3 separate regions of the Homo sapiens genome follow, and all the other regions are linked to region 1. Evidence: fine-mapped expression QTL. A gene starts in region 1. Each other region holds a variant in brackets. All regions are shown on one strand. Distances are between the middles of the regions. Region 1 holds the start of INPP4A (inositol polyphosphate-4-phosphatase type I A). Region 2 overlaps INPP4A (inositol polyphosphate-4-phosphatase type I A). Region 3 overlaps INPP4A (inositol polyphosphate-4-phosphatase type I A).

Region 1 (4,340 bases):
GTCCACATCCATTTCTTTAAGCCTTTTCTTCAAGCCAAACTCTACCAAGCAGCTCTGGCTTCACAGGCGTGTTTACTAGACATCACAGGGAATGAGGCACCGAGAGGCCCGTTCACATGCAACGCCACCCCTGGGACAGACAGCATCACGGCCTCCTGGCACCACTCCTGCAACAGACCAACCACACTGCCCTTCTTACATGGGCCCCATCATTCATCTTTCTTCAAAGAAAACAGTACATTAGCAGTCGACACTTCAGCAAAGAACCCCCAAAACAAATGCCCTAGCCTAGATCCAAAAACAAAATTTCCGTTAAAGAAAGTGTGTTTTTCAACCAAAGAAAAATTAGGCTCAATTCTAGGACAACCTATAGCAAGCAATTCTACGTGCACTGGCCAACGCCAACAGCAGCTAGATTCCAAAACAAACTCAGCAAAAAAGGCTCTGCTCTCACCTTTTAGAGATAAGAACCAGAGTCAGCAAGCGGCAGAACCATGATTCACACCGAAGTCAACCCACTCTGTCCTCAACCCCACTGGCTTCCCCATGGTCCACACAACCCACTGTGAACAGATGGACCAGTCAGAATTTCTCTGCAACACCCAAATCGCCACCCCACCCCCATTCCCTTGGTTTAAATGCCCTGAGGGGCAGGCGACAAATCAAATTCCACTCTTAGGCAGGTTCCCAACACAAGACACATTCAGTGGCAAAGCAAAAGAGAAGATGGGCTCTACCACATATAGGTCTTTCTTACCCAGAGGAACATTTTCATGGTCTGTCATTACGGATGAACTCGGGGCAGGAAGAACCCATCATTATGTAATGTCAGAGGGCAGGCGACAGGGGAAGGGAAGCGAGACCATCAACATTCCCTTCCTTCGCCCACAAAGACACAAATTTACCTCTGACATTTTGAACGTCTGTCTTCTGGGGCCTACCCATTCCTGGCTGGCTTTTCAAGAGACAGCCACAGATCCCTGCACATTTCTCAGGCCTCAATTAATTGACTAGCAAAGCCAGAGAGAAATAAAATATAGAAAGCAAAGATGCTAGAAATGTTGTCGGGGTCTAAAGGCAGGCAGAAAATGGAAGAGTTTCGAGGATGGAGACCAGATTTCCCACACGGAGATGCATGTTTACTTTCACCCGGTTATGTTTCCACCCCAAACACGGCAAGGCCTCCAGCTTCAGGAGCCCGTAGACCCAGCCCTGGAGCCGCATCGGGCAGGCACCGCGTCTGCGTCCCGCGGCCACGCGCCCGCTCGGCACCCGGCTCCCTGCTGGGGCGGCCGCGTCTTCACGGGGCTGGGGGTCGGCCGGGCTCGGATTGTTCTCAAAAGACGCCACCGCAGGTGGACCACTGGCACCGTTAGGCAGTGCAATTTCCATGAAAACCGCGGGCGCCGTCCACATCCGCCCCAGCGGGGACCTGGACGCGCCCCCGCGCCCGCTGTCCGTCCCCGGCCCCGGCCCCCGCGGCGGCCGCGTCGCCTCCTGCCCGGCCCGGCCCACCTACCTGGCGCTCCCCGGCCCCCGGCGCCAGCCGCCCCGCTGTCCCGCCGGGCTGCGCGCCAGAGCCCCGCAGCAGCAGCAGCGCCGCCGCCTGGCTGTGAAGTCGCGGGCTGCGGGCCCGGCCTCAGGTGCTGGTCCTCCTGCCCCGGCCCACGGAGCCCGACCCGGCGGCAAACCAGCAGCGAACCCTCCACGCGCGCCGCAGCCCTAGCCAGCCGCCGCCGCTCTAGACGCCGGGCGCAGCCCCGCCCTGGCCCCGCCCCCTTGTCGCGCATGCGCGCTGAGGGCCCGGCCCGCGCCCTGCGACCCCCGCCCCACTACCAGCCCGAGCTGGGTCCGCCCTCTGAGACAGTAGGGCCGGTGACCGAGCTGCTCGCGCCAATTCCTACTGCTAGGTTCCCACAAGATCCCACCCTATCCTGTGACTGCTTCACCTGCAAGGAGTTCTTGAACTTCTGGACTTGACTGAGCGATGGCATCTTCACCCTGTCATCCACTGAGGCATCTGAGGCCCTGACGGATCCCCAAGGGAAAGTTTCCTGGAGGAGCCGCGACCCGGGGATGCGCCCCCAACCTTTTGCCCTCCGGACAAGAGCACTTCCTGAAGTGCAGACGTACTCACTCCCCAGGAGATGTTTAGGAAACTGAACATTCCAACCAGACAAGCAAAAAATTAAAATCTTAATTCTTTGAAAATACAGACTTGCAAAAAAAAGAAAATTGCTAACCTCTAAGTGTATGTCCTTCCGGACCTGTTCTGGCCTGTGTGCATAAGTGTGCACTAACAGACTTGCAACAGCATCAGTCCTTACACTTTGCCCCAAGTTTCTATTTTTCCATAGACAAAAACAATAATCAGAAGTTTTGGAAGAAAATTTTCACTTTGACTTTAAAACAGCATTTCTCCTTGAGCAAGGGCAAATACTGGACTGAATGTATCCTTATCTTTGAGTCTTCACATTTTATCCGAAAAAAAAATTCTTAAAATGATTTTAATTCAATAAACCAGAATACTTCTCAGGCAGAGCATTTAAACATATAATTTGCTTCAAAAACAAAAGAGATTAACCAGTTAGGAATGGAAATTAAGAATTCTCTGAACTCATTTAGAATTATGTCTGATCCTCCTCATGTCACCAAAATACAGACAATAGTCTGGAATAAAAATAAACAAATATAAAACGAGTTTTTTGGGGAGCCTGAGGCAGGAGCATCGATTGAGCAGAGGAATTTGAGGCTGCAGTGTCAGCCTGGGAGACAGAGCAACACCCTGTATCTCTAAAAAAAAAAAAAAAAAAAAGAAAAGAAAAGAAAAGAAAAAAGAAAAAGAAAATGTCCTAGTTTTAAATTTTTATTTCTTTACTTTTTATTTTATTTCTCTTCTGAAAAGTAACTTAGTAATAAAACAGTTCCCTCTTATTATTTCTCCAGCTAAATGGAAAGAAATATTGACAGAACCTTGACTCCACAGTACAAAGTTAAAGCCAAGAAAATCAAATTTGTAGAAATGCAAAAATATTTTTGCATTTTTTTTAATTACTGTGACCAATTAGTTTGCTTGGAACAGCCCCAGTTTACATCTTTTTGCAGCAAAATTATTAATAGGGCCCTCTTTCACTCTCAAATGTATTCCTGTTCAAACAATAAATTTTATGGCCATGCTGTTTATTTATTTATTTTTGGGATGGAGTTTCGCTCTTTTTGCCTAGGCTGGAATGCAATGGCGCGATCTCGGCTCACCGCAACCTCTGCCTCCCAGGTTCAAGCAATTCTCCTGCCTCAGCCTCCCAAGTAGCTGGGATTACAGGCATGTGCCACCACCCTGGCTAAATTTGTATTTTTAGTAGAGACAGGGTTTCTCCATGTTGGTCAGGCTGGTCTTGAACTCCTGACCTCAGGTGATCCACCCGCCTCGGCCTCCCAAGGTGCTGGAATTACAGGCGTGAGCCACCACGCCTGGCAGTCATAATCAAGCTAAGAAAGTTGTTAAACACTAACTTTTAAAAAAGAAAAAAAAATTAAATTTATAAAGATTTAAAAATAGATATCAGTCTAATTTCAGTATTCATTCATTTAGTACAGTAACACTGAATGAGGATCAGCTTCCAATAACATCTGTCACTTGACTGTTATGTAATTCTGGATAATCTTCAAAGATCAATCACATTTTCAGTGTGGCAAAGAATGAGGCCCTAATTCCACCGTAGAATGAAAATTATCAAGAGAAAAGGGAGCCATGTGTTAGTTAATACTGTAAAAGGAAAATAAAATCTCGGGACCCCCAAACTCACTACTCCAAAGGGAAAAGCTAAGCTTGGGAACTGAATCATGCAAAAAAAACTGCCTTCCTTTTGTTCCTAAAGAGATAGCTGCAAGATAGAAGGCCACATATCTCCCCAGGTGGCCTCCCTCACCCTGACAATGTAAATTAACAGCTTATCGTCACAGGAATGGGACAAAGACAAGCGGAGGAATCATCCTTCCACCCACCCCAAGACAAATGCATATTTGACCTCTTCCTCTACTCTCTGTTTACTTACCTTATGTAAAAATGCATAATTCACTGTTCTTCTTTCCCCTCCTGCCCACTTTTTCCTCTTTAAGTATTGAAGTCCCCAAAACCCTCTTGGGAAAAAGCATAGGCCACAGATCCTACTGATCCTACTGTAGTTTGTGCCTCATTTTCCCAGTTGCATCCTCAACCTTGGCAAAATAAACCTCTAAATTGACAGATCTGTCTCAGACACCTTTTGGTTTACAATATCATGCTATATCTTCCCTAAGCATCACGATGTGATAGCTAAGTATGCTGGTGGTAAAGTATC
Region 2 (4,000 bases), 100 kb before region 1:
AACAGTCACTCTGGACATTAGAAGAGCAGGATCACCTCTGCAGAGGCTGAGCCCCCATGGAGCTGGGTTCTGCAAGGGTAGGAGGATTGGGAGGCTGGGTCCTCTCTGCCTGGGATTTAGCCCCTCACAGTCTCCAGGCAGGGACACTCCTTCTGCCTGTAACCCTCCCCGCTCCATCCCCTCCCTGCTTCAGGGACAGTCTTGTATATGGGGAGCAGGGGGGAGACGGCAAGGGGTGACCAGGCCCAGATTGGGCTATGGAGGGTCCTCAGAGGGAACCCAGGAACGCAGAAAGTTCCCCAGGAACAAGGTTCAACCCAAAACACCTGGGTTGGGATTTACCAAGGAGCAGGCCTTGGGGGCAGCTCCTTGGTAAAGCCAAAGGCCTCTCCCCTCCCATTCCTCTTCCTCTGCCCCGCTAGACTCAACCCCTAAGTACTTTACTTGTCCCGTTATGGGAAAGATCAGGCCTTGAAAGAGTCCCCAGTAGAGAAAAGGCAGGGAGGGGAGGCTGAGAGGCCACTTCCACAGAAGTAGCATGGGTCTGCTCCATTAAGGAGGCAGGAGCAGCAGCAACCGTCCCTAGATGCCCTCCTCCCTCCCTTGTACCTAAAGTACCCCCAGGGAAAAGGACCCCCAGGGGGAAGTTGAGAGGCCTCAGCCTGGACATCGGGGAATGTCCTCAGTGCTTCCTCCTGTCAGATGCCACCAGCAGAGCCTGACACCTCCAGCAGGGCCCAGCCATAGCCCCTGAGCCCCATGGGTCACAGGCTCTGAGGCAGCAGCATTTCTTGAGGGGCTGCAGGTGCCTCTGAATGAAGCACCACTGCAGAGCCTCTGTTATGAGCCTGGGGAAGCAGTAGAGAAGCCCAGGCAGCAGACACCGTGGTTTCTAACTGTCATCTAATTATCTGGTGGAAAAAGTCACTCAGTTGTATTAAATCTTGGTTTGTACCCACCCCCAGGGGTAAAACTGACCTTGGTAACAGTGTTATTAAAATCAGCATAAATTAATAAGCATCATGAAGATGTAGGCTGGCTTCATTTGTATAAGAGGTAATAGTGAAGTGAAAACTGAAAAGCCACAAGACTCCTGTATAAGAAGACAGGAGTTCCCAGCTGCACCCAGGGGCTGACATGAGAACCCAGCACCCAGGGGCTTCCTGGGTCGGGCCCTTCCTCTTCCTGGGAGAAACAGAACTAGGTCCTTTCTCAGAGTGAGTACGACAACACCCAGCTGCCAGGTTTTAAAGGTAAAACAGCAGACTGAAGATTGGCTATTCATTATTAAAGAACATTGCAGTTGGAAGGGAGGACTGTTTATGAGGTGTATAACTAGGAACCATGGCAGCACCGCAGGGGAAGCCCACAGGAGGAGGTGTGGGGATGGCACAAGCTTTCTCTGCATGAGGACGAGACCCAAACAGACACTCTCTCCACAGACAGAAAACTCACCAACACTCCTCAAAACTGCTAAAGAAAAGAACCAAAATGAAATATTAGCAGTTTGTTAGCAAATACCAAATGCAAAAACAAAAAATTAAAAAGCCAACTTATTTTTTGTCAAAATACTTAAAATTATTTGTTGAGGTCCCAACTACAGGGATGACTACAATCATGAGCCCAATGTGCTTATTCCTTAGAGCAGCGTCACTCCCTGTGCTCAAGCCCCAGGGAGACATCCCACCTCAGGCCAAGTTACCTCCGCATTTAAAGGAAAGTTCAAATCATGAATACCATATCTATAAGTGGCTTGATGGCATTAGTGAGAAATTAAATAGAAACTTATATATTTGAAAAATACTAAGAGGTATTTTGAGAAATAAATTCTAAAGTTAACATGCAGAGTTATCAGGAATCAACACCCCAAGCCTCCTGGGACAAAGACCCCCAGAAGGCCCCCTTCTTGACTGGCCAGAGTTACTATGGGTTCTCCTTCAGGGCCCCACCCCATCTCAAGCTGCACGCTCACACTCTCCACAGGGCAACATGCAATGGAGCGACAGACACGCTTTCTGGCTGGCTGTGCAGAGCTGCGGTGGCACAGGAAGCTGCGTCTTCTTCCTATTTCCCAAAGGGACCTGGAGTCAGCAAATCCTAAGACAGGTCTGGTTACCTGGTTTGTCTTAGGGAAGCACCCCTGGGAATGAATCAAAGTCAAGTAGGTTGTCTGGGGGCCTGAATTCCCCTTCCCTGTTTCTCCTCCCTCCGGGACTCACCGGGCTCTGGGCCCACCCAGGCAGCCTGTGCACGTATCTGAATGGTGACTTCTCACAGGG[T/C]ACGCTCTTCCGTTCCCTGCTCAGCCTTGCCCATGATCAGTGACGCCCCTAGCTGCCTCCCTGACCCCCTCAGCCACTGATCTGACCTTTCACCTCTTTCAGTTTTCTCAGATCACGTCCTGACTCCCAGCCATGGCAGCACAGTCAGGTGCCAACCACCAGCTCCATGGCACATGCCAGAGCTCTTCACCTGACCATCCATGGGATTCTTGTGACGCTCCCTGGGCCTTTGCTCACCTTCCCTCACGCTGTTCCATGCTTGCTTGCTGAGTCTGACCCTCCCCAGCCCACATGCTGCAGAGGCTGTCGACGGATGCTTCTGCTTGTTCCTTCCCACCTCAAACATCTCTCTGCAGCCCCACCTCTTCTCCTGGCCCTTCTGATGAACACCTGCTCTTGCCTCTTTCCATCCTGTGAGAACCCGGCTCTAACACTGTTTTCCTCTCATTCACCTTACCTCATCCACTTCTGTCTTTCCTATCAGCCCAAACACATGCTAAGTCATAATTATTCTCCCTAAACCAAACACCTCATGCTACTTCCTCTACTTTGTGGTCACAGTCCAAGGATCTTACTGGTCATCTACACTCATCACCCCCACTTCCTGAGCCACTGAAATCTTCACAGGTGATGTTCTGGAAGATCATCAATGCCTCCTGCACATCTAACACAACAGCTTGGGTTTATTTCTGGCTCTCTCCCTCCCACCCCTGGGGGCTGGGTGGATGCCCTGCTCCATGCACCCCAGCATCCTCAGCATGCTTGTTTCAGGCCCTGTTCATGCCAAATGGTGCTTGCTGACTTGTCTACTCCCAGGCAAGGCCCTGAGCTCCTGGAACCAGGCCTAGATCTGCTGGGGGCTGTAACTCTGGTCACAGAGCAGGCTGGCAGCAAGGCCAGTCCTCTTAGCTCTCCGCCCCCAGCACTGTGCACCTGGCCACATTTCACCATGTGCAATGCTTCTGCCATGTCTTTGTCTGAAATGCCCTTCACCACCCTCCCTACCTGGAAATTTCCTGCTCAGGACAGTAGCTCTGTACAGCCCCCTGAATGTTTCAAAAACTGGGAATGTTTACCACTGCTGTCCTCTAGGAAACAACATGCTCCAGGCTCGATGCCTATGGTGCTCAACTGACTGGCCAGGGACTCTAAAGGATGCCAAGCCAGCAGAGTCTACATAGGGCGGTTGCCTGGAGCACCACTTCTGAGGTGGATCACAATCTGCTCCTCATTTTGCAGGACAGGACCATTGATCCAGTGCCCTCATCACCCACCCAGCTCAGTCACACATAAACAGAGCAGCACAGGCTCCATAAGGCAGATCCTCCTGCCACGCAAAAGCAGATCAGATGGCTGGGTGTTTTTGCGGTCATATTTTGATTTTATTTTAAACTGAGAAAAGAAGCATCAGAAAGCTGTACAAGGACCACAAACCCTCTCTGGCTACTTACTGTTTCTTGGTCTCTTCAAATTTGTGCAGCTTTTTGCGGAGACCTCCTGACTTAAAACCTTGGCAGTGTGCTGCTGGCGCCCCAATGGTGACGATGTCGTAGTTCTGATCTGAATGACAGAAAGCTCTCCTCCATTACTCTGGGCTCAGGCCTGTGGACAAGCCAGCTATAGGGATATGCACACAAGTCTGGGGTCCTGACCCTCCAGCCCACTGCTGTACAGCCTTTGGTTCCCCTGATCCCACAGCCCTGGCTGCCCAAGGGTCTGCT
Region 3 (4,340 bases), 22 kb before region 1:
AGAACCCTGAGGTGGGAGGATCACTTAAGTCCAGGAGTTCAAGGCTGCAATGAGCTATGATTACATGGCTGTACTCCAGACTAGACAACAGAGCAAGACCCTGTCTCAATCAATCAATCAATCAATAAAATTGTTTTCTTTACTGAGACATTAAAATTGGTATATCTAAGGATCTCACTTTCTTACTGTAAAACCTCAAAGTTTTACTATTAGTCCACTAAGATTTACTCAGGGTTATTACAAATTCAATTAGTTCATGGTCTCACTGAGTTGGAAAGTATGCTAAGCACTATCATTCATAAATAATTGTAAAACTTAGTTGTGGAACTCGACAAAGATGAGGCTGAACTTACGGCCTGTTCAACCAACAGGCTGTACTCTAAAAGCCCATTTATAAGTTATCTGGAACCCAGAGAACATTTCATTTCATGTAAAATTACCACTAAGTTGGTACTTAAGTTCCCAAGAAATAAATAACTATTAGACAGTTAATAACTAATAGATAACTATTAAATAGAGAACTAGATAATAATTAGATAATAGATAATTATCTATAACTAATAGATAACTATTCAACTCATTTGTCCTTTTCTAATTTAAAATCAGAAAAACGTTATTATGGTGCAAGAAAATCAAGTGTGTGTTGTGTGTGCATATACAGACAAGAAAATCAAATGCAAGTGTATGTGTGGGATGTATATGCAAAAACTCTAACTTAAGGAAAAGAAGCTTCACATCAAGAACACAGAAGTTAAATCCATGGAGGCTGAGAAGATAATTTCCACTCAGTTCCAAGGGCAAAGGACACTGATGATGCTAGGTTCACTGGACCTGTTGTCCCCACATGTGGACGGTGTCGCTAACATTGCTGACAGCTTCACAGTCTTAACAGCAACATAATAGGGGAAAGGAGAAAGCGTTTAAACAGATGTAGAGACCAAGTTAACAGTGTGATGAATCATCAGCAGATGAGGGGGACGGAGGGGCAAGTGTGGCACAGGCACAAGAGGACAATGTTTGTCCCCTCCAAACTCCACACTGAAATTTAATCCCGAATGTCAGAAGTGGGGCCTAATGGGAAGTATTTGGGTCATGGGGGCAGATCCCTCATGTATACATTAATGCCCTCCCCCAACCACCCCCCGCTTTGAGGGTGCGTGAGTTCTCACTCCGTTGGTTCCCACAAGAGCTGGCTGTGAAAAGAGCCTGGGACACCACCACCACCACCCGCTCCCTTCCTTCCTCTCTCGCCATGTGAGCTCAGCACACGACAGCTCCCCTTCACCTTCCACCACGAGTAGAAGCAGCCTGAGGCCTCACCAGATGCAGATGTCCAGTCTTGAACCTTCCAGCCATCAGAATTGTGAGCCAAGTAAACCTCTTTTCTTTAAAAACTACCCAGCCTCAGGTATTCTTTTATAGCAGCACAAAACAGACTAAGAGAACATCCAAGAGGAAAAGAAAAAGGCCCTTTCCCGGCTACTCTAAGAAACTCGGCATTCAGAAGCCTGGTGTAGTTATTCAGGGACTGCCCAAAAAATACATAAGTGTGAGACAAGCATTCATAAAGAAAACGAGATGGAAATAAAACTCTGGGTCCCCACCAGAAAGAAGACAGATAGACATCATCACCTGTGAGTGCCCTCCTCTCTCTCCTGTGAGTTTGGCGATGGGTCTATCCCCTCCAAGGCCTACCTGGCATAACCATAAGTGAGGGTTTTATGCACAGAAAGACCTCTGAAACCTCTGCCACCAACCAGCTGGGTGACAACTTCTCTGAGCCGCAATTCTCTCACGGGTAAAATGGGATGACAGACACTTATCATTCAAGGTGTCCAGAGGATTAAATGAAGTGCTGCATGCTGAGGCACAGCACAGCAACGACGCTTAGTGAAATTCCAAAAATGCCGGTGACTCATTGTAATCTGTGATAGGGAATGTCTGTCACCCCCTTGAGCCAACAGGTGCTGGTGCACAGTGAGTGCTCTACAGGGTTAGCTTAAAAAACATAACAAGGCCGGGCACGGTGGCTCACGCCTGTAATCCCAGCACTTTGGAAGGCCAAGGCGGGCAGATTGCTTGAGGTCAAGAGTTCAAGACCAACCTGGCCAACATGGTGAAACCCCATCTCTATTAAAAATACAAAAATTAGCTGTGCATGGTGGCGTACGCCTGTAGTCCCAGCTACTCAAGAGGCTGAGGCAGGAGAATCGCTTGAATCCAGGAGACAGAGGTTGCAGTGAGCAGAGATCACGCCACTGCATTCCAGCCTGGGCAACAGAGTGAGACTCCATCTCAAAAAAACAAAAAAACAAAAAACAAAACAAAACAAAAAACGTAACAAGAAGGTCCCTTCCTAAGCTACTGGGGGGAGGGCTGGAGTGAGACTTGTGGCAGATGGAGCAGAGACTGAGCAAGGTGGGCAGGGCCAGCCTGGGCACACAGCCAGAGAGGAAGGGGGAGG[G/A]CGCTAGAGTGAGACCCAAGCCACCGTCTGCTCAAGTACTGCGCCGAAACCAGGGTGGAGCCGGGAGGAAAAACCACAGGCCCTCACAGGAACAGGGGCTCAGCCAGAGAGTTGAAAAACTCTTTTTTCAAACCCATGTAACAACATAGTAAAATGACAGGGGATTATCTGTTCACCAAGTGAGTGCCCAGCAACATGACAAAATGACCCCAGAGTCAGCTACCCCAGAGTCTGGGAGAGGAAAGGACCATGGCCACCCCTAGGCCTCCCCAAGCCTCAGCTTCCTCATTAAGCCCACTGTATGTGGGACAGTATGGTCCTCATCAGGCTGCTGTGAGGTATGGCAGGTCAAATAATGCCCCCTGCAAAAGAGGTTCACGTTCAAATCCTTGGAACCTATTAATGTTACCTTATACAGCAAAGGATTTGCAGACTCAATTAAGTTTCGAATCTTGAGATGAGATTATCCTAGATTACACTGGTAGGCCCCAAATGCCATCACAAATGTCCTTATATGAAGGCAGGAGATTTCGGAGAGAAGAGAGGGCCGTGTGACAGAAGCAGAGAGAAGCGGAGTCACGGAGAGAAGATGTTACCCTGCTGGTGTGAAGATGAGGAAGGGGCCGGCAGCCGAGGCAAGCCAGCAGCCACAGAATGGATTCCGCCCTAAGCTACTGGAGGGAACATGGCCTTGCCCACAGCTTGATTCAGCCCAGTGATTCTGGAGGCCAGAACAGTGAGAGAATAAGTTCCTTTCGCTTTAAGCCACCGAGTTTGTTACAGCAACCACAGGAAGCTAATACAAGGGATTAAAAGGGAAGTGGATACAAAGCAATCAGCACGCTATCTGGCACGTGGTAGGAACTCGAGAATCCCCATTAGTGAAGGACAGTTCCTGACATCCTCCCTGGGCCACCAACCCATCCTCAAAAGCTGTGTGAAAACCTACAACCTTGTACTGCAATAACGAGCTCTGTACTCTGCTCACAAAAGCTCCTTCGTGTGTATCGTCTCAGTTGATTCTGTCCTAAAAAGGAGTTTCCAAGGTTGTCCAAGGACTCTCGGCTTGTCACATATAAATACAACACTGCCACAGGCCTTGTCTTCAACATTCAGTTCAATTAGTTAAAATATTTCACAGGATGGCCTCTGCTGATATCTCATGGAGCAGACCCTCCTGATCTCAGGCATCATGAGCTGTGATCAGGGCCATCTTACCTTGCAGAAACACAGCACAAGTACTTCTCTCAGCCACAGGCCTTGCAACTGTCAACAGAGAAGCTGGTGCCGAGTTCTGACATGGGAACTGAGAACTCTGCCCCTGTCAGGGCAGACATGGCAGAAGAAGAGGCTGGGCAGGCAAAAAAAGACACTGGCTAGCACTTGACCTTCCAAACTGCTTTTCAGCTTGACTCATGCAAAGAGGTTTATCTCTCCCCTAAACCCCCTGCTTTTTGTTTCTTCAGCCCTTGCTCTGTGCACCCCCACTCTCGATTTTCCTCTTTGAGGAGCGAGTCCCAAGTGTCGAAACCCACCATGTGCAATAATTCCACTTCCTCCGTCGTGCTCGGCCTCCATCATGCAGACCCTGGGGCCTCAGCTTCCCCTGGGTTGCTGCGAGGATGTGGCCCCATGAATCTGACGGCTCTCCTGCCCTCCCCTCTGCCCCATTTTGTTCGAGACTCAGGGCTGTGCTGTCCCAACCTTCCCCAGCCTGTGCAAGATTTGAAGACTGTCCCCTTCATCAAGCCACAGCAGCCCTCAGCCACAAAGAGCTCAGGGTGGAGCCTCAAAACCTCAAGAGTATCTTAAAGAAAAAATGAAGAAAAAGAAGAAGCCTATTCACTTCCTAAAAACAGCCATCTGCAGGCCCTCT

What was found. PIP is the estimated chance that this variant, and not a neighbour inherited with it, causes the effect.
Region 2: its variant is the best candidate, but not a certain one, in a credible set for the expression of INPP4A in whole blood (TOPMed, PIP 0.76).
Region 3: its variant is the best candidate, but not a certain one, in a credible set for the expression of INPP4A in whole blood (INTERVAL, PIP 0.70).

The regions. Positions count from the first base shown.
Region 1 is chr2:98,442,265-98,446,604 of GRCh38, reverse strand. It overlaps INPP4A (inositol polyphosphate-4-phosphatase type I A), which reads right to left and starts at 1,747. Exons shown (of 25, transcript NM_001134225.2): 1 at 1,520-1,747. RefSeq lists a silencer at 1,278-1,917.
Region 2 is chr2:98,546,425-98,550,424 of GRCh38, reverse strand. It overlaps INPP4A (inositol polyphosphate-4-phosphatase type I A), which reads right to left. Exons shown (of 25, transcript NM_001134225.2): 13 at 3,731-3,839. Among named protein-coding and RNA genes, the nearest start is that of COA5, 60 kb to the left of the region's middle. RefSeq lists an enhancer at 1,261-1,350. The variant T/C (reference allele first, on the strand shown) is at 2,280.
Region 3 is chr2:98,464,021-98,468,360 of GRCh38, reverse strand. The region is part of intron 1 of INPP4A (inositol polyphosphate-4-phosphatase type I A); the gene reads right to left. Among named protein-coding and RNA genes, the nearest start is that of INPP4A, 21 kb to the right of the region's middle. RefSeq lists enhancers at 1,943-2,507, 2,606-2,915, 2,926-3,065, 4,316-4,340. The variant G/A (reference allele first, on the strand shown) is at 2,465.